Linked DNA regions of Homo sapiens. The protein of the gene in region 2 purifies or fractionates together with the protein of the main gene of each other region. This does not show direct contact. Each region holds a gene or a part of one and is shown on either strand. Other genes may lie near its edges.

The links.
Region 1: the proteins of NUP37 (region 2) and NUP133 purify together in Homo sapiens (affinity purification with mass spectrometry; 4 studies listed by BioGRID and IntAct, with this or other methods). This does not show direct contact.

Annotation. Positions count from the first base shown.
Region 1 is NC_000001.11:229,494,740-229,507,083, forward strand, and holds part of NUP133 (nuclear pore complex protein Nup133), read right to left. Parts: intron 11,420-12,344; coding exon 11,301-11,419; intron 7,364-11,300; coding exon 7,260-7,363; intron 6,125-7,259; coding exon 6,017-6,124; intron 5,080-6,016; coding exon 4,945-5,079; intron 3,568-4,944; coding exon 3,397-3,567; intron 1,309-3,396; coding exon 1,153-1,308; intron 827-1,152; coding exon 756-826; intron 1-755. UniProt on the Homo sapiens protein: Involved in poly(A)+ RNA transport. Involved in nephrogenesis.
Region 2 is NC_000012.12:102,104,861-102,117,204, forward strand, and holds part of NUP37 (nucleoporin Nup37), read right to left. Parts: intron 7,373-12,344; coding exon 7,248-7,372; intron 1-7,247. UniProt on the Homo sapiens protein: Component of the Nup107-160 subcomplex of the nuclear pore complex (NPC). The Nup107-160 subcomplex is required for the assembly of a functional NPC.

The DNA.
Region 1 (12,344 bases), on a different chromosome or scaffold from region 2:
AAAGCCTTATCCCATCCTTAACTCAGCATAGCCACAAACATAGGCCTAAAGCTCCCTGAGCAACAGAAAGAGGGTGGGAAATATGTGCCTGATACCTCCAATGAGAGAAAGATCACAGCATGGGGCAGCCACAGCAGTGGGCAATGACAGGGTCTCAGGCATCTCTTGGCAGTGAAGAAGAGAAGCTCTAGCTGTAAGAGCAGAAAAGCTTTGTCTCTAACGAATGAGACACGAAGGTAAGAATATACTATTTAAGGCTGAAAAATGCCTCAATTTCCCAAATGAACTAACATCACTCGATAAACAAGAGCAAGACCATTCAGTAAGGCTTAATAGATAGCATGAGAAGACCCGCACTAAAAGAACAGGCTGGGCACAGTGGCTCACACCCGTAATCGCAATACTTTGGGATGCTGAGGCAGGAGGGTTGCTTGAGCCCAGGAGTTCAAGACCAATCTGGGCAACATGGTAAGACCCTATCTCTACAAAAAAATTTTAAAAATCAGCCAGGTGTGGTGGCGCATGCTTGCAGTACCAGCTACTTGGAAGGCTGAGGCAGAAGGATCACTTCAGCCCAGGAGGTCATGGCTGCAGTGAGCTATCATGGTGCCACTGTATTCCAGCCCGGGTGATAGAGTGAGACCCTGTCTCCAAAGAAAGAGCACATAGTGAGATTGCTCATCATTTTATTATAAACATCAACTTATTTTTTCCAAACTCTTCTCTATGTTCTTTACGACAAATTAATTGCTTACCAGTTTTGCTTCAAGTCCAAATATCGAATGTTGACTCCTTCTTTAATAGCTTCATAGTTACTTTCAGATCCCTACATGAAAATATCAATAATGTAAGCTTCTCAAGTGCAGGAATGATTTATTTTCACCTTTATATCCCTAGTACCTAGTGAAGTGCTTCACCCATAACTCAGTTGCTGAATAATGTATACATTAAAAAAAAAATCGCTAAGCAAGTAAACCAATGCATTCCAATATTTCTGGAGATTGACTAACCCATTTCCACTTAATCTGATAACCATACACTATGTTGTTTATTACACTGAAATGTGTTGAAATAAATAAAACAATTAAGGGAACCAGCATTATCATACAACCATAAACATGAATTACAGAGATGAATATTATTGTTTCTTACCCAAATAGCATCGGTAATGTTTTCCTTCAGGGCTCTATTTATATCCCAACTGTATGCATGCTTTTCTGAAGAATCATCTAATTCCCATTTACTGATGTTTGAACTCGTCAGGCTATAAAAGCTTGATCTCTCTCTATCCCAGAGAACACTTGAAAGCTATTCAGAAAAGAAAAGGAAGTCAAATTCACAGATTAACTTCTAATGCTAAGGAACTATTGTTTTAAAAGTCAAATTTCACATATGTGATTAGTAATCCTAGCAGAATTCTTCATTTGGGATTTAAAGAAAGTAGTGATCCTGGGCCGGGTGTGGTGTCTTACCCCTGCAATCCTAGCAGTTTGGGAGGCCGAGACAGGTGGATTGCCTGAGCTTAGGAGTTCAAGACCACCCTGGGCAACATGGTGAAACTCCATCTCCACTAAAATACAAAAAAGTAGCCGGGTGTGGTGGCACACGCCTGTAGTCCCAGCTACTCAGGAGACTAAGGCAGGAGAATCACTTGAACCCAGGAGGTGGAGGCTGCAGTGAGCCGAGATCGCACCACTGCACTCTAGCCTGGCGACAGAGTGAGATTCCATCTCCAAAACAAACAAACAAAACAAACCAGAAATGAGTGATCCTGAAATAGAGCTTGAGGGCAAGGTTGGATCTATAGGAAGAAGGATACAGGTGGAAAGCCCAAGAGGAGAAGAGCTGAAAGGTGGGAAAGTTACAGCGTCTTTGGAGAACAAGAAGTCATCCTGTTACATTGGAATGTAGATGACAAGTAGAAAAGAAGAAAAAATAAGGATTTTTTGAAAAATAATGAGGCCAGGCGTGGTGGCTCGTGCTTGTAATTCCAACACTTTGGGATACCAAGGAGGGAGGCTCATTTGAGCTCAGGAGCTTGAGACCAGCCTGGGCAAAATGCTGAGACCCTGTCTCTATTTTTAAAAATAAATAAAAATAAAAAATAATGAAAAATCAGGGACATATAGCAGAGAGTGTTGAATGTGAATTGGTAAGTGTAGCAAGCAAGGGAGATATTATCAATAGCTTCTGAACACAGAATTGTGTTTGAATGCATTTGGCAGAATGTATGTAGTTAGTCATGAAGAGGAGTGTTATTTTGCCTTTTCAGTATATACTTAATCATGAAGTATAGATATTCGGCTTTTTAAAGCTGGATATACATGACTGTTTTGTGTTAAAACGCATCACTGATAGGGCAGAAAGGCCAACAGTAAGTAAACTGAGCAGGTACCAGGAGCTTAGGTGAAATTTATCAAGAGTATAGGTTAGGGCATAACATCAAAAGCAGAAAGATGGGGATGGAAATGAGATTGGATAGAAGTTAAATCTACAGCACCTGGTAAATAACTAGTTTGCTATAGAAGGAGAGGGAGACACAAAAAATAACAAGGTTTTATACCTGGGTCACTGAAAAAAGGGATGGTGCTCTTAACAAAAACAGGTCAAAAGAGAAATGAGTTTTATAGGGTTAAGTGAGTAGCCAATAGGAGAGATGAAAGAACACAATAAATTTGTTTTTAAACATGTTAAGTTTAGGTTTAAAGAACATTCAAGGAAGCAGGTGATAATTATCTGAAACAAGAGGGAAACAGCACAGTAAAAAGAGCATGTTCTTTAAATTCAGACAGGCCTGGGTATGATTCCCAGCTCTGCCACTCAGCAGTTACACACCTTCAGCCTTGCTGAGGGTGCTTCCTCATCTGTAAACTGGCGGGAAAGCATGCTACCTTACAGGTTGTCACAATGATTACACAATATGAATATAACAACTATAGAGCACCGAGCAGCGAGTAGATGGTCCATAAATATTAGTTCCCATCATCTTCCCTTCACTATGCTAGAGTATGGTGCAGAGAAGTCCAGCCAACAGATCTAGATTTCAGTCATCCACACAGACAGCTGGAGGCATGAGTAGAAACACGCTTCTGGTTAAATCTAAAAAGTCAAATTAATCTTTAAGAAACACATTTTATATTTTACATAATAGTTTTAGTTCAAAAAATGTACTTGTGAGATAATCTGTCTGATTTAAAGATTTTAGTGTTACAAGTTATGGGAGAAGGTTAGTATGATCTCATTTCATCATAATAAAAATAGTTCACTAAAAAGACCAAAGGTTTTATTTCGCATAAGCTACTGTCCATATGGAGGAATACTAAATTCAGAGGATACTTTCAACTTATTGATTTAACTAAGAAATAAGCTTGTAAAATAGTTATTTTATAAACTTACTGTGAGATCACTACTAGGAGATAAAATTCCAAAAAGAGAAGAAACTTTTCGACCAATTCCTGAAAGCATGCCTTGCCCCTGAGGCAGGATATGCTGATGAATCTTTCCTGAGCTCTCAGGTATCAACCGAATTAGTTGGCTTCCTGATGAAGACAAAATAAAACTTCCTCCCTGTGAAAAAACATTATGAGGTTAGTTCAGTTTAGCATCGAATGCTAAGATAAAATGAAAAATTCTTTGATACAGAGAAAAATCATCGTAATTGAAATAAATCTAAAAGAATACAAAATAGAACGTTGTTATTTTATTAAAGTAATATATTTCAGAATCCATTCAGTTAATATTATTAATCCTACATAGAAAAACTCTCATAAGAAAAAAACTGGCCAGGCATGGTGGCTCACACCTGTAATCCAGCACTTTGGGAGCCCAAGGCGGGGTGAAACCCCGTCTCTATTAAAAATACAAAAATTAGCTGGGCGTGGCGGTGCGCACCTGTAATCCCAGCCACTTGGGAGGCAGAGGCACAAGAATTGCTTGAACCCAGGAGGCAGAGGTTGCAGTGAGCTGAGATTGCGCCACTGCAATCCAGCCTGGGTGACAGAGTAAAACTGTGTCTCGAAAAAAGAAAAAAAAAAAAAACAACTTTTGTAGCAGAAAAAAATTGCATATTTTTTAAATTCTGATTTTTAAACTACAAGTTCATCATATTTCAGATTCAACAAATTAGGTTATCAGATTTTATTTATTTATATTTTTTGTTTGCTATTTTATTTTTTTAGAGATAGGGTCTCGCTCTGTCACCCAGGCAGAAGTGCAGTGGTGAGATCATAGTTCACTGCAGCCTCAATCTCCTGGGCTCAAGAGATCCTCTTGCCTCAGCCTCCTGAGCAGCTGGGACTACAGGCACACACCACTATGCCCAGATAATTTTTAAATTTTTTTGTAGAGACAAAGTTTTGTTTTATGGCGCAGGCTAGTCTTGAACTCCTGGCCTCAGGCAATCCTTCCGCTTCAGCCATTCAAAGTGGTGAGACTGCACGCATGAGCCACCATGCTCAGCCAGATTTTGTTTCTTTGTGAACCTACAAAGAAGATAATGCAAGCCATTCTTTATAGTGTCTGACAGTTTTTAAGCCAATCTTATAAAATGTTTCTAAAAGAAATTCATATCACAAGCTACTATCTGAAATTGATATTTTGGAGTCCTGTGAGAAGAGCCTCCCTTGTCTAACTGTTCAAATCATAGATCCTTACATTCTTCTCTTCCTTGTCTCTTTTTGATCCCTCCCCGGCCTCTATAGTCTCTTTAAAACCCCACATTTTTAGTCATCAAATCTCATTTCCACGGCTGGGGTGCAGTGGCTCATGCTTGTAATCCCAGTACTTTGGGAAGCCAAAGCAGGAGTTATTGCTTGAGCCCAGGAGTTTGAGAATTGCCTGGGCAACATAAGGAGATCCCACCTCTATTTAAAAATAAAAACAAAAATTTATTTCCAAGCCAAATCACAGCTTTCCAATAAATATAAAGGAATATCCGTGGTATACCTGCACTGCTGTTAGGAAACTGTAAGTCTTATCACCTCCCGAATCTACAAAAGCCTCTGTGTAGGTATCTTCACCAGCAAGGCTTGGCCAATAGCGGATAGATCCTTCTCTGGTGGCAACCATGACAGCAACAGCCTCAAAACAAGATCACAACAATCAGCAATCACAATAAAAGAGGAACCCAAAAACCAGCAGTCTGATGGCAATGATACAAAGAAACAGGACAATTTACTATTTGATCAAGAAAAATCAGAAATAAGAACTCACCAGTGTTTTGGTTTGCATTTTTCTAATGGCTAATGATGCTGAACATCTCTTCATGTGCTTATGTGCCATCCTTATATCCTCACTAAGTGTCTGTTCAAGTCCTAGCCCCTGTTTTTAAACTGCATTGTTTTCTTATCAAGTTTAGAATTTTAAAAAATATTCTGGATACAAGTCCTTTGCTGGATACATGATTTGCAAATTCTTCTTACTCTGTAACTTGTCTCTTCATTTTCTTGTCTTTGGCAAAGCAACGCTTTAAATTTTTATTTTATTTTAATTTTATTATTAATTTTATCAAACTTTTCTTTTATGGATCATGCTTTTGGTGATTTCCAAGAACTCTGTCTAATCTCAGGTCATGATGATTTTCTTCTGTTTTCTTCTAAAAGTTTTACTGTTTTACATTTAGATCTATGACCCATTTCAAATTAATCTTTGTAACAAGGTATGAGGTTTAAGGGAAAATTCAATACAATACAATACAAATTGGTCATTTGTAATTTTAAAATTACAAATGTTCCTACACTATGCATTGATACAGAGAAAAATCATCGTCAAAAACCATCCTTTCTGAATTGCTTTTGCACCTTCATCAAAGACCAAATGGGTGCCTTTATGTGGATCTATAACTGTATTCTCTATTCTGTTACACTGACCTATGTGTGTAGCTCTCTTTGCCAATACCACAATATCTTGATTTCTATAGGTTTATAGTTATATCTCAAAATCAAAGAGGATGATTCCTCTAACTTTAGGATGTCCTTGTTGTAAAAAGTTTATTTAAATAAGCTTTTAAGTCACCTACCTGAGTAGAATGTGCTTCACCTGAGGGAGAAGAGTAAGAAAGAGCCACTAAGTCGGCACTCCAGTGGAAATCACTAGGTGGCAGCTGAAGTTCTTTGCAAACGGATAACTGTAGAACAAACCCAAACAGAAAATCTTTCACATCAAATCCAGTATTTTGAAGATGCATCTGATTTCCCTTCTCTGCATATTTTAGATTCTGACTCACTGCTGGAAACACCATTCTACAAATATTCTTTCTTCTCACATCTCCTTTTAATCAGGCTTTCAGTAATTTTAAAACAAAGTATCTTAAGAGTATTGAATCATGAAAACTTAAAGGTAGACCAAACTCTGAAGAACAACTATCCTAACCTCTTCCTGGGCTAGAAAAGTCCAGTTAAGAGAAGACTAAGTAAGGTTAAGATGAGTGCTTAGGCTTCCTATGGAACTTTCCCAATTTACTCTTGATTTGTTCATCTGACATTTAAAATTAGCATGACCAAAGAGTAATTATACCAAGTTACCTAGGAAACAATTTCTTAGACTCTCAGCCAAATATCAGGATCCCGCAGCTAACTCAGTATGTCCCCCAGGAATTCACCCTCACCTATTACTCCTAACCACATACACCCTTTTCTAGGCAGCAGTAACACAGAGTTCAGCAGAAGTGAAGAATTGAGGTAAGCAGGAGCCCTGAGTTCCAACGGAACATGGCCAAGGAAGTAATGACTGGTAGAAGAGAGTAGTGTATCTAAGCTGTAACAAACAGAAAAAGGTTGCTGAGGATACGTTACTAGACATGCAAATGATAACCCACTGTTGGAAGTGGACAAGTGAAAAGTTTAACTAGCAACTGGTATCATATTTTCTTATTTTATTAAGCATCATTCAGTAGGTTCAACAAAACATAGTTCTGTCTTCTCAGAAATACGCAAACTCAAAGTTCATTTGCTTATGTGGATAGCATTTAGTCTGATACTTCATTAGGCAGACGGATTAGCATTATATTCATTGGAAATATCAATGACTCTAATTTTATTAAATGTAAACAACACAGATCTTCAAAAGGGGGAAACTTTTTTCCCAATACACAAATGTGTATGCATGCTCATTATTTCACATCACTATGAAAATGCAAACTCTTAATGCCTAAGTAGTTTCCTATTGACTATCCTCCAACTGTAAAAAAATTAGGGTAAAAATGAAAAGTCAATTGGCATTCCTCTCCTCTATCTTGTTCCAGCTCTCTAAAGAGCCATTACCTTAGTAATAGGTGACAGAGCAATCTTCCAAATAATGAGCTTCTCTTTGCACACCAGACAAGCCCATCCACCTTCATCTATGTTAATGGTCAGCTGGTCATCGACTAAAGGAAAAAATGAGGTGGGTGATTAATCTTATAGTATAAATCTTTATTACCACACGCTTTATCAAAAAAAAGTAATTGGCACACTCAGAAACGACTACCTCACAACAAATACTTTTGAATATTCCAAAATTATCAACACCAAAAACAATAGATCTATTAACTCTGATAACCAACTTTAGAAATATATCTAACGCCTGTAATCCCAGCACTTTGGGAGGCCGAGGTGGGAGGATCACGAGGTCAGGAGATCGAGACCATCCTGGCTAACATGGTGAAACTCCAACTCTACTAAAACTACAAAAAATTAGCTGAGTGTGGTGGCACGTGCCTGTAGTCCCAGCTACTTGGGAGGCTGAGGCAAGAGAATCGCTTGAACCTGGGAGGTGGAGGTTCCAGTGAGCCGAGATCGTGCCACTGCACTCCAGCATGGGCAACAGAGCCAGACTCCATCTCAAAAAAAAAAAAAAAAAAAAAAGAAAGAAAAAAGAAATATATCTAAAGGCAAAAAGTGTATTTGGGACATTTAATATTCCTTAATTTTTTGTTACAAACAGACCAGATAGCTTATTTCCTATAAGACATATTTAGGCCAGGCACAGTGGCTCATGCTTATAAATCCCAATATTTTGGGAGGCCACCCTGGGAGGACTGCTTGAGGCCAGCCTGGGCAACATAGTGAGACTCTCTCTCTTAAAAAAAAAAAAAAAAAATAGCCAGGCTTGGCAGTGCACTTCCCAGCTACTAGGGTGACTGAGGCACAGGAGAACCACTTGAGCCCAGGAGATTGAAGCTGCAGTAAACCATGATCACATCACTCCCACCTGGTCAAGAGAGCAAGACTCCATATCAAAAAATAAGTAAGCAGAAACAACAAAAGAGAGGCCAGGCAGGGTGGCTCACGCCTGTAATCCCAGCACTTTGGGAGGCCGAGGTGGGTGGATCATGAGGTCAGGAGTTCGAGACCAGCCTGGCCAACATGATGAAACCCCATCTCTACCAAAAATAGAAAAAAAAATTAGCCAGGCATGGGGGCATGGTGGCGTGCACCTGTAATCCTAGCTACTCGGGAGGCTGAGGCAGGAGAATTACTTGAACCTGGGAGGCAGAGGTTGCATTGAGCTGAGATCGCGCCACTGCACTCCAGCCTGGGCAACAGAGCAAGACTCTGTCTCAAAACAAACAAACAAAAAAGAAATATTTAGCAACATTTATAATTATATCGATAAAGTAAAACAAATAACAAACTCATTAACTATATAAAACATTTCAAGGAAAACAATGTGCTTTTGGAGGACCAAAAGCACATAATTTTCAAATAAGAGCTCCTTAAAGGAATGATAAATTATTTAGTACATGGAGACAAAGAGTTACGTTCTCTATTAAGTGACAAAACTAAATTAGCACATATCTTAAGTATTGGTGGTAAACCTCCACAAATGTGTTAACAGCCCTGGAAATTTTATTAAGTTGAGCTTTGCTCTTTACTTACAGAAAGGTAGAAGGGTGAAGTAAAAGGCATAGACAATGTACAAGCAAAAATATCAAACCAAGCCCAGGCTGAGTGAGGCTTTTTGCTCAACTGAACTATCTGCTCAGTAATTTTCTTTTTCTTGAAAGCACTACAACTCCAGATCCTCGACCGGTGTGCCTTTAAGGGCTGACTTAACAGTAGTTGGCAGGTTTCTAAGTGGGGAAGAGTTCTTCAAGTTGACACACCTCTTTGTTTTATATATCCTAATTTCTAAGGACTCTCTGAATTTCTAGATTTGGGGCTGTGTTATTTAATCTAGTCTGTTAAAATATGAGTAGTACATTAAAAGGTTTAAATGTAAACTGAAATTTTTAGAGGGGAAAAATATACACATATATACCAATATATATATATACATTTATTTATTTAAAACAGAACAATGTATAGAAAGGTTAGTAGTTGTCTGAAAACAACTATCCCTAAAGCTCCCAAGGACCTACAGGCAAGATGTGCCAAGTTCCAGTTGATGAGATATATTCCTTCTTCTAAAACAGAGTAATTTCAGCATTTTTTTTTTACTGTTATTAAGTTATACAGTAAATAGAGTTATTCACAGTATAATACATTTTACATCACGATACACCCATATACAATTTAAGTAAAACGAACAAAATTTACTAAACATATGAGATGCATTCTATTTCTTCTTTTTTTAAATGCTGGTCAAGAACCGCTAAATTTTGGTCACCCCTACAATTTGAAAAATACTGTTCCAGAAAAATCACAAAGATCTAGAATTCAAGCCTTAATAAAAATGACTTCAGCAGATATTAAGGCTGCTCTGAACTTTGCTCTTCCAGTGTCATCCAACTGCTCATCTTTAAAGTTGCCTTTCTAAGCTTGTGTTGATTGTATCTGTCAAAATTCCACACTAATTCTCCACCAACAGACGCTTCTAAAGGTACACCACGACAATGGTAACGTCATAAATTTGTGCACACAGCCTCTGGGATGCTACATAGGATCCAGAAATGGAGGTAGGACTTGATTTTACTGTATTATTAAACCCAATAACATGAGGTGCCAGTTTTGGGGTTTCACGGGAAACTTCATAAACCTGATCAACTCTGTAAACAGGACTGAATTTTGCATATACAGTATTTCCCCCTTTTATCTGCAGTTTCAAATACCTGTGGTCAATCGTAGTCTGAAAATATTAAATGGAAAATTCAAATGAACAATTCCTAAGTTGTAAATTGCATGCTGTTCTGGGTAAAGTGATAAAATCTCATACTGTCCTGCCTAAAGGTTGTGAATCAACCCTTTGTGCAGCATATCCATACTGTATACCCCAAGCTTGTCCAACCCATGGCCCAGGGACACGTGTGGCCCAGGACAGCTTTGAATGCGGTCCAACACAAGTTTGTAAACTTTCTTAAAACATGATAAGATTTATACACAGACCTTTTCATTATTTATTTTTAGCTCATCAGCTATCGTAAGTGTATTTTATGTGTGACCCAAGACAATTCTTCTTCCAAGTGGCCCAGGGAAGCCAAAAGATTGGACACCCCTGAGACTATCCAGCTGTTTGTCACTTAGTAGCTGTCTCAGTTACCAGATGAACTGTCGCAGTAATGCAATGCTTATATTCTCATTTTAGTTAATGACCCCAAACGAAGTACAAGAGTAGTGCTGCTGGTATATTGTTATAATTGTTCTACTTTATTATTACTGTTGTTCATCTTTACTGTTCCTAATTTATAAACTAAAGTTTATCATAGGTGTGTATGTATTAAAAAAACACAGTATATATAAGGTTTAGTACTATACAAGGTTTCAGGCATCCACTGGGGATCCTGGAAGATATCCCCCAAAGATAATGGGGGACTACTGTACAGTACCTAAAACCATTAAAGACTTAATTTGATTGTGTTCAAATGAACTCATTCTCCTTCTCGAATGTATTATACATCTCAATTACAGTTAAAAAAAAAAAAAAAAAAAAAAAAAAAAACTAAGACAGGTGGCCAGATGTGGTGGCTCACGCCTGTAATCCCAGCACTTTGGGAGGCCAAGGAGGGCAGATCACCTGAGGTCAGGAGTTCAAGACCAGCCTGGCCAACATGGTGAAACCCTGTCTCTACTAAAAATACAAAAAATTAGCTGGGCGTGGTGGCTCACACCTATAATCCCAGCTACTTGGGAGGCTGAGGCAGGAAACTCGCTTGAACCTGGGAGGTGGTGGTTGCAGTGAGCTGAGATCACACCACTGCACTCCAGCCTGGGTGACAGAGTGAGACTCTGTCTCGAAAAAATAAAAATAAAAAAACACTAGACAGGCCACCCATCTCTCACCATTTACGTAAAGGTATACTAGAGAAAACATAAATTTAATCTCTATGCCACATCTAGGCTCCATTTTAAACTGCTAATATAGGTAAATGGAAAGATGACACCTACCTTCAGCCAATGTTAGGGCTTCCATGACTTTAACAGGAAGAGAAGATCCAAACGTTTTCACATCATAGTTCACAGACTCAGTTATGGAGTGGTGTGGGAACATTCGTGTTGGTGTTCCCCTAAAGAAAAGAGTCTATATTACCTTACTTGTAACTTAAAATTCTCCATTATCCTAATTTTTTATGTATATATTTTCACAGTAAGGAGTTCTTTGAAAAAAATTAACACTGGCTCATATTTACCATGTAATTAAATGTAATATTTTTCATGTAAAAAAAAAACAAAACAGGATTTAGGAAAACTTGGCTTCAATCCCATAGACTCTAGTATTGAAATGCATGCCTGTATTCACTTAAACTCCTTATAATTCTGCCTCCTTAGCTGTGAAATAAGGCTTAACTAGACCAGTGTTTTTTTTTTTTTTTTTTCAAACAGCGGGTCATTTTGCAGATCTCAACATTTTTGAAAGACAGAATATAAAACATCAGCTTTTACCATATGTTGTGGTCAAATACATTTTATAAATATTGGCTTAGATGAGATTTAAGCTCATCTAGCTTTAGGTGCTTAAGAGTCCACCAGACCTGGCCGGAGCAGTGGCTCATGTCTATAATCTCAGCACTTTGGGAGGCCGAAGCGGGAAGACTGCTTGAGACCAGGAGTTCAAGACCAGCCTGGGGAACGTGGCAAGACCTTGTCTCTACAAAAAAAATTTTAAATTAGCCGGGCATTGTGGCACCAGCCTGTAGCCTGGGCGACAGAGAGTGAGACCCTGTCTCTTTAAAAAAAAAAAAAAAAAAACTATCAGATCTGTACAACCAAGCAAGAAATCGAACAGGTTACGAGCATCAGCTGTTACATGGTCCTCAACAGCAGATATCACAGTAAAAACTTTATTTCTTGCTCACCCTCTTAACATTTAGAATATTGTAAAGTCACCAGAATAAAAGGTAGTCTATGTCTTATCACGAGAATTAAATGAGAAGATGCACATACAGAAGGGCTAAGGGCTTTGTTTCCTGACAGAGGATAACAAAGGTTTTT
Region 2 (12,344 bases):
ACGATTTGAAATAAAGAAGTGTGAGAACTTCAGCTTTCTCAAGATTGTTTTGGTCATTTGGGGTCCTTTGAGGTTCCATCTGAATTTTAGGATGGCTTTTCTGTTTCTGTAAAAAGTGCCACAGAGATTGATAAAGACGTCATTGAATTTGTAGAGCTTTGGGTAGCACAGACACTTTAACACTATGAAATCTTTCAATCCATGAACACAGGCTGTCTTTCTATTTATTTGTGTCTTTAATTTCTTTCTGCAATGTTTTGTAGCTTTTAGTCTTTGGCTTCGTTGGTTGTCTAGTGAGGGTTTATATGAAAGGGGATACTGTGCACTACATTAGCATTTATTTTGCACCTCTATATATTTATACATTGCACAAGAATGCCATGGCCGGGTGCAATGGCTCATGCCTGTAATTCCAGCACTTTGGGAGGCCAAAATGGGCAGACTACTTGAGCCCAGGCGTTCCAGACCAGCCTGGGTAACATGGCAAAACCCCATCTCTACAAAAAAAAAAATACAAAAATTAGCCGGGTGCAGTGGCGTGTGCCTGTAGTCCCAGCCACTTGGGAGACTGAGGTAGGAAAATCTCTTGAGCCCGGGAGGCGGAGGTTGTAGTGAGCTGATATCATGCCATTGCACTCCAGTCTGGGTGACAGGAGCGAAACCCTGTCTCAACAACAACAAGAATTCCGTGTCATCTTTAGCAGGTTGAAAAGTGCCCTCACGCCAGGCACAGTGGCTCCCGCCTGTAATCCTAGCACTTCCGGTGGCCAAGGTGGGTGGATCACTTGAGGTCAGTTTGAGACCAGCCTGGTCAACACGGCGAAATCCCATCTCTACTAAAAACACAAAAATTAGCTGGGCATGGTGATGTGCACCTATAATCCCAGCTACTCGGGAGGCTGAGGCAGGGAGAATCACTTGAACCTGGGAGGTGGAGGTTGCAGTGAGCCGAGATCACGCCAATGCACTCCAGCCTGGGTGACAGAGCGGGACTCCCTCTCAAAAAAAAAAAAAAAAAAAAGTGTCCTCAAAAAGATAAGTCTATGTGTTAACCCCTGGTAACTACGAGTGCTGCCTTATTTGAAAATAGGGTTTTGCAAACATGATTAAATTAAAGGATACTAAGATGATCATCCTGGATCTAGGGTGGGCCCAAAATTTAACAATGAATGAACACAAAAAAGGATAAACACAGAGGAGATATGAAGGGTAAGAGATTGAAGTGATGCATCAACAAGGCAAAGAAAGTCAAGGACTCCTGGCTACCATCAGAATCTAGAAAACAGGCATGGAATGGATTCTCCCTCAGAGCCTAATAAACCAACCCCACTGATAACTTGATTTTGAATATGTGCCTCCAAAACTGTGATAATAAATTTCTGTTGTTGTTTTAAGTCATCATGTTTGTGGTGGTTTGTTATGGCAACAGTGGGAAATAAAGACGCCATCATAAATAGTATACAAATATATGACTGTTTCATTAAATTGCTTAACAGATGTTGAGTATCAAGTTATCCCCTAAAAATGTGCCATATTTTAACAACATTTTCATTTGATTAACCAAGTCAGCCTAGTGGTGCCTTTATTACTTCTTAGCTATGCAACTTGAAGATGACATTTAAAAACTCAGGGCTCAGTTTCCTCCTCAATAAAGTAAAGGAGACTAGATTAGTTTACTTCTAATGCCCTTTGTATTAATAAATGAAAGCACTCTATCAATCTCATTTTAAAATGCAAATGTACACTCTTATCATTACTTTCATTTAACCTAACAAATACCTATATTTAATTAACAATGAATTATAAAAATAGGTGCTTTGATTTGGGACATTACAGGTCTGGCAAAAAGCAAAAAAAACCAAGGAAAGCCAAAACCCAACCAGGTCCGCTTTGTGGTCCTGATGGTGAAACTGGCCCAACTTCCCCACAGAACTAATGTTCATGGTTTGGAGATAATTACAGAGATTGACTCTCCTGATCTTAAAGCCTGAAAACTTGTATTTGTCTCCTCTGAGTTCCTTTCTCAGGAAACCGACCTTCAGGCCTCCCAGATAGCATAAAGGAACTAAAACTTACCAGATCATTGCATCTGCACAATGAGGCACCAGACCCCTCGTTTGTCATGACTGGTTCCTTACACCCCACAATTCCTGTCTTTCCACATGTAGTTGCATTTCTTCCCTGCTATATAAACCCCTAATTTTAGTGGGTTAGTGAGATGGATTTGAGACTTATCTCCTGTCTCCTCAGCTGCAGCACCTGAATAAAGCCTTCTTCCCTTGCAATACTTGTTGTCTTAGTCACTGGCTTTCTGTGTGGTATGCAACAGGGCCTAGACCAACCCCTTGTATTTCGGTAACAATGGCAACACGTTAAGAAAAAAAATAATCCCCTCCTATGCTGCATTTGGCACACACATGGTATGATAGGTTGCTAATGCCCAAGTTTTGATATCAGAACTTTGCCCAATTTAGTTCAACATCCCCTGTCTAGGCTAGTCAGCTTCCCTTTGGTTGTCCTGTCAGTCTATCTCCCCAACCATTCTTCACACTTCTTTCACAAGTGGACAAGACAAGGAAAAAAAAGGGGAAAAGGAGGCGAAAGAAAAGGCCTAAGAAACACTGAAGAAATACGTGTCGGCTGTTGGGGGAAAATGTTTCAAGTATGTTAAGGGTGGTCCAAGTGTGCACATGGACATTATGATATATACACACAGTAATGCTCAAACAGTACATTCATAACCCCAAACTGCAAATATAGTATTAATAGAATGCATAAACTGTAACAGACTCACAATGAAATACTACATAGTAATAAATAACTAGATCTACAAGTAGAAACTTGGATGAATCTCATATATATAATGTGAAGTGAACAAAGCAGGACAAAAAAATACATATAGTATTATTATATTCATAAGAAAGTTCATAAGCAGGCAAAATTAAGCTATATTGCTTAAGGATGCATCAGTAACTGATAAAACTATAAAAAAAAGCAAGGAGATGATTATCCTAATAAACATGAAACTGATAGCCTTTAAGGGGAAGGAAGAAGGCTGATTGGAGAGGGGCACACTGGCAGCCTCAAGTGTTAGTAATGTCCTATCTCTTGACCTCTGTGATTTCATGAATGTTTACTTTATAATAAACATGTTAAAATGCACATATATACTCTGTGATGGTTAATATTAAGTGTCAACTTGCTTGGATTGAAGGATACAAAGTACTGGTTCTGGGTGTATCTGGGTGTTTCTGGGTGTATCTGGGTGTCAAGAGATTAACATCTGAGTCAGTGGAGTGGGAGGGGAAGACCCACCCTCAGGAAGACACACCCATAATGTGGGTGGGCACGATCCAACTGGCTGCCAGCACAACTAGAAAAAACAGACAGATGGAGGTGGAAGGAGATGACTTGCTGAGTCTTCCAGCTTTCATCTTTCTCCTGTAGTTGGATGCTTCCTGCCATTGAACATCAGACTCAAGTTCTTCAGCTTCTGGACTCTTAGGCTTACACCAGTGGTTTGTCAGGGGCTCTTGGGCCTTAGGCCACAGATTGAAGGCTGCAATGTTGGCTTTCCTACTTGTGAGGTTTTGGGACTCAGACTGGCTGCCTTGCTCCTCAGCTTGCAGACGCCTTATTGTGGGACTTCATCTTGTGATCGTGTGAGTCAATACTCCTTAATAAACTCCCCTTCATATATACATCTATCCTATTAGTTCTGTCCTTCTAGAGAACCCTAATACATACTCTATGTGTGTTTAAACACGTATGTTATATTTTATACATGCAAATAAAGGGTAAGAAAAACTGTAAAACAAAGCTTATTCTACCTAATTCTTCTCCTTTGAATTTGTCCAATTATTATTTTGGGAATTCATTATTTATTTGCTCATAGGAAACTCTAGACAAATTTGCCACAATAATATCACTCATGTTGAGGGTCTCCTACGGATTTCCTCAGTTATAGCATAATGAAATCATAAAACTTTGTTCAAAATGTCATCTCTAAAACAGATAAAAGCTATTTTGGAAGTTGTTAAAAGAAACATCCCAACTAAAAGGGTTTGTAAAGAGGTATTAATAGCAAAATGAAGCCAAGTTCAGTAAAAATGTCAGCAAATAGAGGAGTTACAGTAATCAAAGAATACTTACTTAAAAAGAAAATTAATAATCTTACTGGGATCTAAATAAAACCAAACAAACAAACCCAGAAAACTTTATGGCCAGCCTTGTGTTGCCCCACTTTTCTTTGAATCCTTGCTGTTTCAGGGATATTTAAGTCCTTCTTTAATTGAACCAGAAAACCTCAGAGAACTGAAATAACATGAACAATGAATTCTCTAGCCACTACGCAAGAAAAGCAAGTAGGGATGGAAAGAGTAGAAAGGCAGGGAGAAAGAGAATTTAAGGCAACTACATGCTAATGATAAGCCATCATGAAGGATTTCTAAATGTAAGATAAAAATTAATGATGATAAGAGAGATGCTGAGTTATACCTTAGTCATGGTGATAGACTACTATTTATTTTAGAATACTATAAAAAAGCAAAGTAAAGAAAGTACAGAGAGTTACTATAGTATAATCACAATTATGTACAATTATGTACAAAAATGAAAAGGGTATTGGGAGTATAGGTGGCATTCTTCTCCTTATTTTCTGTGTTTTCTAAATTTTATTAAGCATTCATTATTTTATAATAAAAATAATTTATTTGAAAACAAGATTGTGCCTTCAGGTTGCTCTAAAAATAGTCTAAAATTAATGGCCTGCTAATGTCTTTTGAATTTGTTACTGAATTTGTATAGTTCCAAAAAGGTCTTGAGACAGTTTACCAAAAAATAAGAAAAATCCAACCAAACAAAAACACCAACCAGAAATGATGAAACACAGCAAATTCACTAAAAAGAGGACAGGAAAACAAGTACTAAGCAACAAGGAAAGCATAGAATACAACAGCTGAATATGTAGATTAAAGAGGTATCACAAAACTTAAAACCAAGGGAAGAAGACTGTTTCCACAGCTTTAAAAATTTAAAGAATCAAAGAGACTTGTTCTTGTTTAGGTCTAGATATTGTGACCACTTTCTTTTAATATAAAAGGAAATCAACAGCACACCAGCTGTTGGCAATGACATTACGTGTGCTGACAAAAGCTATTGTGTAGATTATTCAATTAAGTTAGCTAAATATCGGTAAAGGCTTCTAGGAAAAAACATGCAACATCTTCACAACCTATAAGAAATCACACAAAGATTTCTAATAGAAGAAACAAATATACCAAAAAAGCGTCAGCATTATCACTCATCATGGAAATGTCATTGTGGCATCAACCAGAATGGCTAAAATTAAAAAGACAGGCTGGGCACAGTGGCTCATGCCTGTAATCCTAACACTTTGGGAGGTCAAGGTAGGTGAATTGCTCGAGCCTGGGTGCTCGAGACCAGCCTGGGCAACATGGCGAAACCCCATCACTGCAAAAAATACAAAAAATTAGCCGGGAGTGGTGGTGCATGCCTGTAGTTCCAGCTACTTGGGAGGCGGAGGTGAGAGGGAGGGTTGAGGCTGAGCCAAGGGAGGTTGAGGCTGCAGTAAGCTGTGATTATGGGTCTGGCTGTCAGCCTGGGAGATAGAGTGAGACCATGTACCAAAAAAATAAAAAAAAAAAAAAGAAAGATTGACAATAGCAAATATTGGAGAATAGGCCAGGTATGGTGGCTCATGCTGTCATCCCAGCACTTTGGGAGGCCAAGGCACATGGATTGCCTGAGCTCAGGAGTTTGAGGCCAGCCTGGGCAACAGGCAAATCCCTGTCCCTACAAAAAATACCAAAATTAGCCAGGCATGATGATGGGCGCCTATAGTCCCAGCTACTCAGGAGGAGGCTGAGGTGGGAAGACGGCTTGAGCCTGGGAAGCAGAGATTGCAGTGAGTGGAGATGGTGCCACTGTACTCCAGCCTGGGCAATAGAGCCAGACCTTGTCTCAAAATGAATGAATGAGTGTTGGAGAGTAGGAAGACCACCCTTAGATTATTGGGGAAAAGACAAAATGGTAGAACCACTTTAGAAACTGGCATTTTCTTAAAATGTTAAACATACATCTACCCTGTGACTCAGCAATTCTACTCCTAAATTAAATCATATAACCACCCAAAGCAGTATTCAGCAAAAAATAATAACTAAAGCCTAGAAACTGTATTGGTACCTATTTACAGAAGAATGAATAAACAGACTATGGTCTATTGATACACTGTAATGGAGTACTACTTAAAAAGCACTGGTATACATAACAATGTGGAAAAATTGCAAAAACAAGCCAGACACAAAAGACATTCTGTATGATCCCACTTATATGAAGTTCTAGAATAGGCAAAACTGATTTCTGGTAATAGAAATCAGATCAATGGTTGCTTCTGCAGGGAGTGGGGTACAATGATTAACTGGGAAGAAGTATGACGAAACTTTCTTGGGTGACAGAAACAGTGCATGAATAGGGTGTGGGTTGTACAAATATACGTATTTGTCAAAACTGATCAAACTATACCCTTAAGAGCTGAGAATTTCAGAGTATCTAAATTATCCCTTAATTTAAAAAAAACGAAGTTAGCTTAATAGTTGATAACTTTTAGTTCCTAAGTACTGTCTACTAAAAGAAGACACATCTTTTAGATTTGACATTTGTAGAAGGCAAGGCTAGTGTTTTGTAACAGATCTTAAATAACCTAACATATTCTTGCCCCTGTAAAGAGGGCTTCAGCAGGCATTGCTAGGATTTTTTTCTCAGAAAACCATCATTCCTTTTAAACACTTTCACAAAAACTGAAGTCCAGGACCAGAACTTACAGATTTATATACTGTTGGACAAAAAAATGTGATCTTGGCCTATGGGTGGGGAAGGAAAGCTCATTAATGTCTCAACCAAATTTAGTTATTTTAAGTTATACTTTCAATAAAGTTGTAAATTCAGTGAACAATCTGTAAAGACCTTGATTCAGATGAATCTCACGTAAAAGGTTTTGTAGTTTGGCTCAAACACATGGTCAAGGCATCATAGTCATGGCTGTATATTTAAATCACAAATTCAGATGATAAGCCTAAATTATTAAGTAGTAGCAAATATCAAAATATCTAATATCTTGGATTGTGGAAAATGGAAATTGAGAAAAAAGTATCTATGATCAGACTTCCAATCATGTAACACAATCAAAGTACATTAGTAAGGAATGCATTTGGTACTGTTAAACTTACTTGATTACTGGAGGCAATGAATCAAGTCTAGTCTCTGGGCTCCAAGCTATGCCATCAACCCTGACTCCATGGTGAAATGTTCGAAGTGTTTTATACTGAATGCCTTCAACGTCTGCTTCTTCTTCCTAAGCATACACAGTAAATGTTTTAATAAGTAATGAGAACAAACAATATAATATTCTGTATTTCATTATAATGAATTTATCAGGAGGTTATGCTTATGCTTTTGAAAAGTTCAAAAGCAAATTACATATTAAGATTTAACTAGTTCATTGAATTAAAAAAAAATCCAAAGTTGTCTAAGCCTCACAAAATAACTCTCTAAGGCAACTAGAAACAAATGGTAAACATGTTCTACTTTATCTTAGGAGGCATTTCATAATAAGTTCAATGAAAATGGACTGCTTGGTCAGGCGTGTTGGCTCACGTCTATAATCCCAACACTTTGCGGGGCTGAGGTGGAAGGATTGCTTGAGCTCTGGAGTCTGAGACCAGACTGGGCAACACAGTGAGACCTGTGTCTACGTTATAAAAAAAGAAAACAAAGAAAATGGAATGCTCTAAAGAATCAAGATATTCTAGGTAAATGAATTACCAGAACCGGATTATCTACTGACAATATTAAAAAAATACACTGTACATTCTCACTACATGGAAAATACTTTGGGACCTTATAAAGACCTCAAAGTCTTTATAATCAGTGTCAATGATTTTCATGTAGTGTTACATGTGGCATTATATGTGTGTAAGATGCTACAAATAATTCATCTGAACTATTATTGTTTATGAATAGTGAATATGTAATAAATAATCTGGCTAATTTAGTTTTAGATATTTGATTCTGGGAATAAATGCTTAATAAAGTTGGCTTATTTATCCAGTTCAGCCCTACTAAAATGATTTCAGTTTATCCTCACGGGAAGGTGAGAAAAAAAATCAACTTTAAAAGTCAAGCCATCTGTCGCTGGCAATGGAGACAATAACCTGAAAAGTTCTCCCATTACAACATTGCAAAAATTCAAATACAGACAAGCAAACGACTACCAAGGTATGCAGCTGTTATAAGGGTATCTGCCTACATGCAATGATTTAAAGCTTCAGTTTGCAAGAGAGAAGAGACAAATCCTAGTGCCTGCACAAGGAAGGATGCCAGATCAGAGATTTCTGCATAGATCCAGGGCCCGATTAAGGGGAAAGCAGGAAAAAACAGACAAACAAAAAGAAAATCCTGCCATGCAAAATACCTACCATGAGTAAGGGAAGGATACTTAGGGGGCTTCAAAAGAATTGCTAATGTTCCTTTTCTTAAACTAAGCAGCAGGTATACAGGGATCCATCTTATTACTCTTTATGCCTTTATGGATAACACATTTTTTATAAGCATTAAAATACTGCTCAGCACCATAGGAAAGGTAAAAAAGAAAATGATAAAAAAATTTTGCAATTTTAAAAATAAGTAAATCATCCTTCTGTTATTTAAATCAATACCTGAACTGGGTTTGAGACTAAAGAAGGCCAAATTTTCGCGACAAATTTGTCCAAGGAATCTTCTGTGCTAACTACAGTTTTCTTTATAAAAGTGTATGGTATTATAAAGTATCAGGGAAAAAATCCAGCAGGTGAAACTTGATATTTAATGAAATACGTATGTCTATATTGATAGGAATTACTTGAAGGCCTGATCTAAGCATTCCATTCACCCAGAATCTAAATGCAAAGTTTTATAATGTATACTCGAATGAAATCCAAGTAGATATACTGATTTTTCCAGGATAGCCTATGGGATCCCAGTAAAGTCATTTCACAAATATACTACACATCTTTCTCTGCATAATTCAGATACCCTTTGAAAATAACTTCAAATTTCAGGTGAACTTAAGAGTTAACAGCAAAAAGTTTTTCCACAAATGAAAGAAATACACTTATCAAGGAAAGAAAAACACTGTCAAATTTTACTACTTCGTAATTTGTGTGTATAATAGTTGTATAGCTAACAGCCAGATATGCCAAGACAGCAGCCACTAAACAATTTTAAAATAAGTTTAGGAGCCTAATCATAGCTGACTTCACAGTTTGGATTACATCTATTTTTCCAAACTTGACAAATCAGTCTCCTAAAAATGAAGTTTTTGCATGTAAATACACATCATCTTGCTACTGTAACAATATTGTTGACAATCAAGTCCTTTAATTTGTTACCCAAATCACATATGGAATTACTGGGTGGTCATGGGGATAAAGAAATCTCAGGGACTGTACAGCCTGGGCTTTTTGTTTTACCAGTGAAACCTGTTTTCCTGGCAGCACTGTTTGCCACTGAGCCAACTAAAAGGCCCGTGTGTGTGTGTGGTATAGGCAGAGACAAATGCTATTTTGGATTTAGTTTGGGGTATAAGCAGAATTGTATAGGCAGGAAATTAAGATACTTTGGAAAACTTGCTATAATACAAATGATTATACAAGGTTTCGGCATATTTGAGGTTGGGGCAAAGCCAGGTTGATGGAAGGGCTATTATAAGGGTTTGAAACTGGCAGGCCCTCCCACCACACCCATTTAAGGCCAAATACAAATTTCAGTTAGTCAAGACTGTGAAGTTTCTCTAGTTCAATTCTTTCCCCCCAATGCTTGAATCCCTAGGAGAGCATCTGAAAAAAAGAGTTTACACAACCCCTCTCTGAACACTTCCAGTGACAGGGAACTAGCTATTTCTTTGGGAAGTTTATTCAATTGGGGGATAGCTCTAATTATTAGAAGAGTTCTTAACGTTAAGCCAAAATCTGTTTCCATGTAAATTCTACTCATTATTCCACGTTCCATCTCTGGAACCACACCAAATCAGTCTAACTTAATGATGACAAATATCTGGCCATAGCTGATCTCCTCTAGGTGAAGACACACTAAGCAGCAGATTCAGCCTCAGCCTGAAAGCATTATAAGCAACAACTCTGTCCATTCAAATAGAGATGACAAATAACATAAAATCCATTTACCATTGAGTCTAATACCTCTTTCACAGTTTTAAACATTTAGATACTACCCTGAAATTTGTATTAAAATACATTATCTTCTCTGAATCATAATATACTGCTGAGAACTACAGAGTATTATTATTATATTAAAGATTACTGTCGATTTACAGAGGAAGATGCAGAGAGAACTGTGCTGTCTGATATGGTGGCCACTAGCCACACAGGACCTTATGAAGCACGTGAAATGTGGCTAGTTCTATTTGATATGTGTACACTTTAAAAAGTGTAAAATACATACCAGATTTCTAAGTCTATTCAAGGGGTCTTCATTAGTGAATTGAGGCCTCTAGTAGAACTTGGATGAGAACATTGATTTAGGCAAGCATATATGTTCATGCTCCTCTGCCCTTTAACAAAGGTTTTTATAGCAGTTTTCTTATTGCACTGCTTTATATGTAAATATTTCCTTAAGGATATGGTCCTTGCTTTTTTCATGTCTTGGCACCCAGTATGCACTTAATGAAAATTTGACAAATACACGACACCAGTTAACAGTACTATCATTCAGAAGCTCATATGTCCATCATAATCAAAGGGACAACATGAGATTCTGAAAAATGCTTTATTGAAATTCAAATTCACTATATCTACAACGTTTTCTAAACAGCCTTAAAATAAGGATTATCTTTCTGTCAGGAATGTGAAAATCTTTCCACTTAATTTACCTTTACTTAGTTTTCTCTCAAGACAAGAGGCATGAAACTGGGTGCAATGGAACTTGAAGGTTCTAGGACAACAGAATAGTAATGTTTAACAGTGTTTAGCTAGATAAAAAATAACTCCACAGAAAAGCAATAATTTATTTTGAAATGGACTTACTTAATTGTATTTCCAATGTCTGATGCAGAATATAATTTGTGTTTACTATTGTCCAAATTAATAAAAATCTAATTTTTTCCTTAGTAATTTGGGCACGAGACCTACATTGCTAATCTCACAGGTATGAGGGTAACTGAGACAATACATGTGACCATAAACTATAACAGAACACAAATGTTTATACTAGTTCTTTTTTCTCATGTTAGTCATTTTCCTTCTTTCTCCCAACTTCTCCCTCTCTCATCTTTGCCTCTCTTTTCCTAATTTGTTCTCCACTGACTTTCTCCCTCAACATTTCTTAATCATAAATGAGATAAACATTTTTCAGTGTTTGCGAATACAATCCTATGTTGTTATTAATTTTAAAAGTAATGAAGTAAAAATTAGTTTTACCTGTAGGAGGCTGCTTTACTCTTTTGTACATTGGTGGCTTGCATTAGAGAAATGGTTTTTCCTCAGTCTTTTTCAAGTACGTAACATTGTCTTAATCATATGACTTTTTATGATCCTAAACCATGTCCATGTAAGTCAGGCTAGGGTCATATTTAGTCTAAAAGCTATTAATTTCTACTCCCACCCAAACAGACAGTACGAAATAGGCTAGGAGCTGTCATATTCTACTCAGACAGCAACAAACTGAAACTTTCAATTCACACTTCCTCTTAAATATGACTATATTCCAATTTGTAAAGCTTTATATATTCATTGTGCTATAAAATGCCAAATTGCATTTTTGATGTCAGAATACTGTAAGATACAGAATTGCCGCTGGGCATGGTGGCTCACGCCTGTAATCCCAGTACTTTGGGAGGCTGAGGCGGGCGGATCACGAGGTCAGTTCAAGACCAGCCTGACCAACATGGTGAAACCCCGTCTCTACTAAAGATACAAAAAAGTTAGCTGGGCATGGTGGCACGTGCCTGTAATTCGAGCTACTCAGGAGGCTGAGGCAGGATAATTGCTTGACCTCGGGAGGCAGAGGTTGCAGTGAGCAGAGATCGCACCACTGCACTCCAGCCTGGATGACAGAGCGAGACTCCGTCTCAAAACAAAACAAAACAAAAACAGAATTGCCTTCTCAGTAAAGGAGGAAATAACATTTATAATAACTATCACTTTAGTGATAGTTATTTTAAATCTTTGAAAATTGGACACTTCCAAATTACCGTGCTCATTATAATTTGAGAAATACGGTTCTATTAATAATATTCTGCTAGGCCAGGCAGGGTGGCTCACACCTGTAATCCC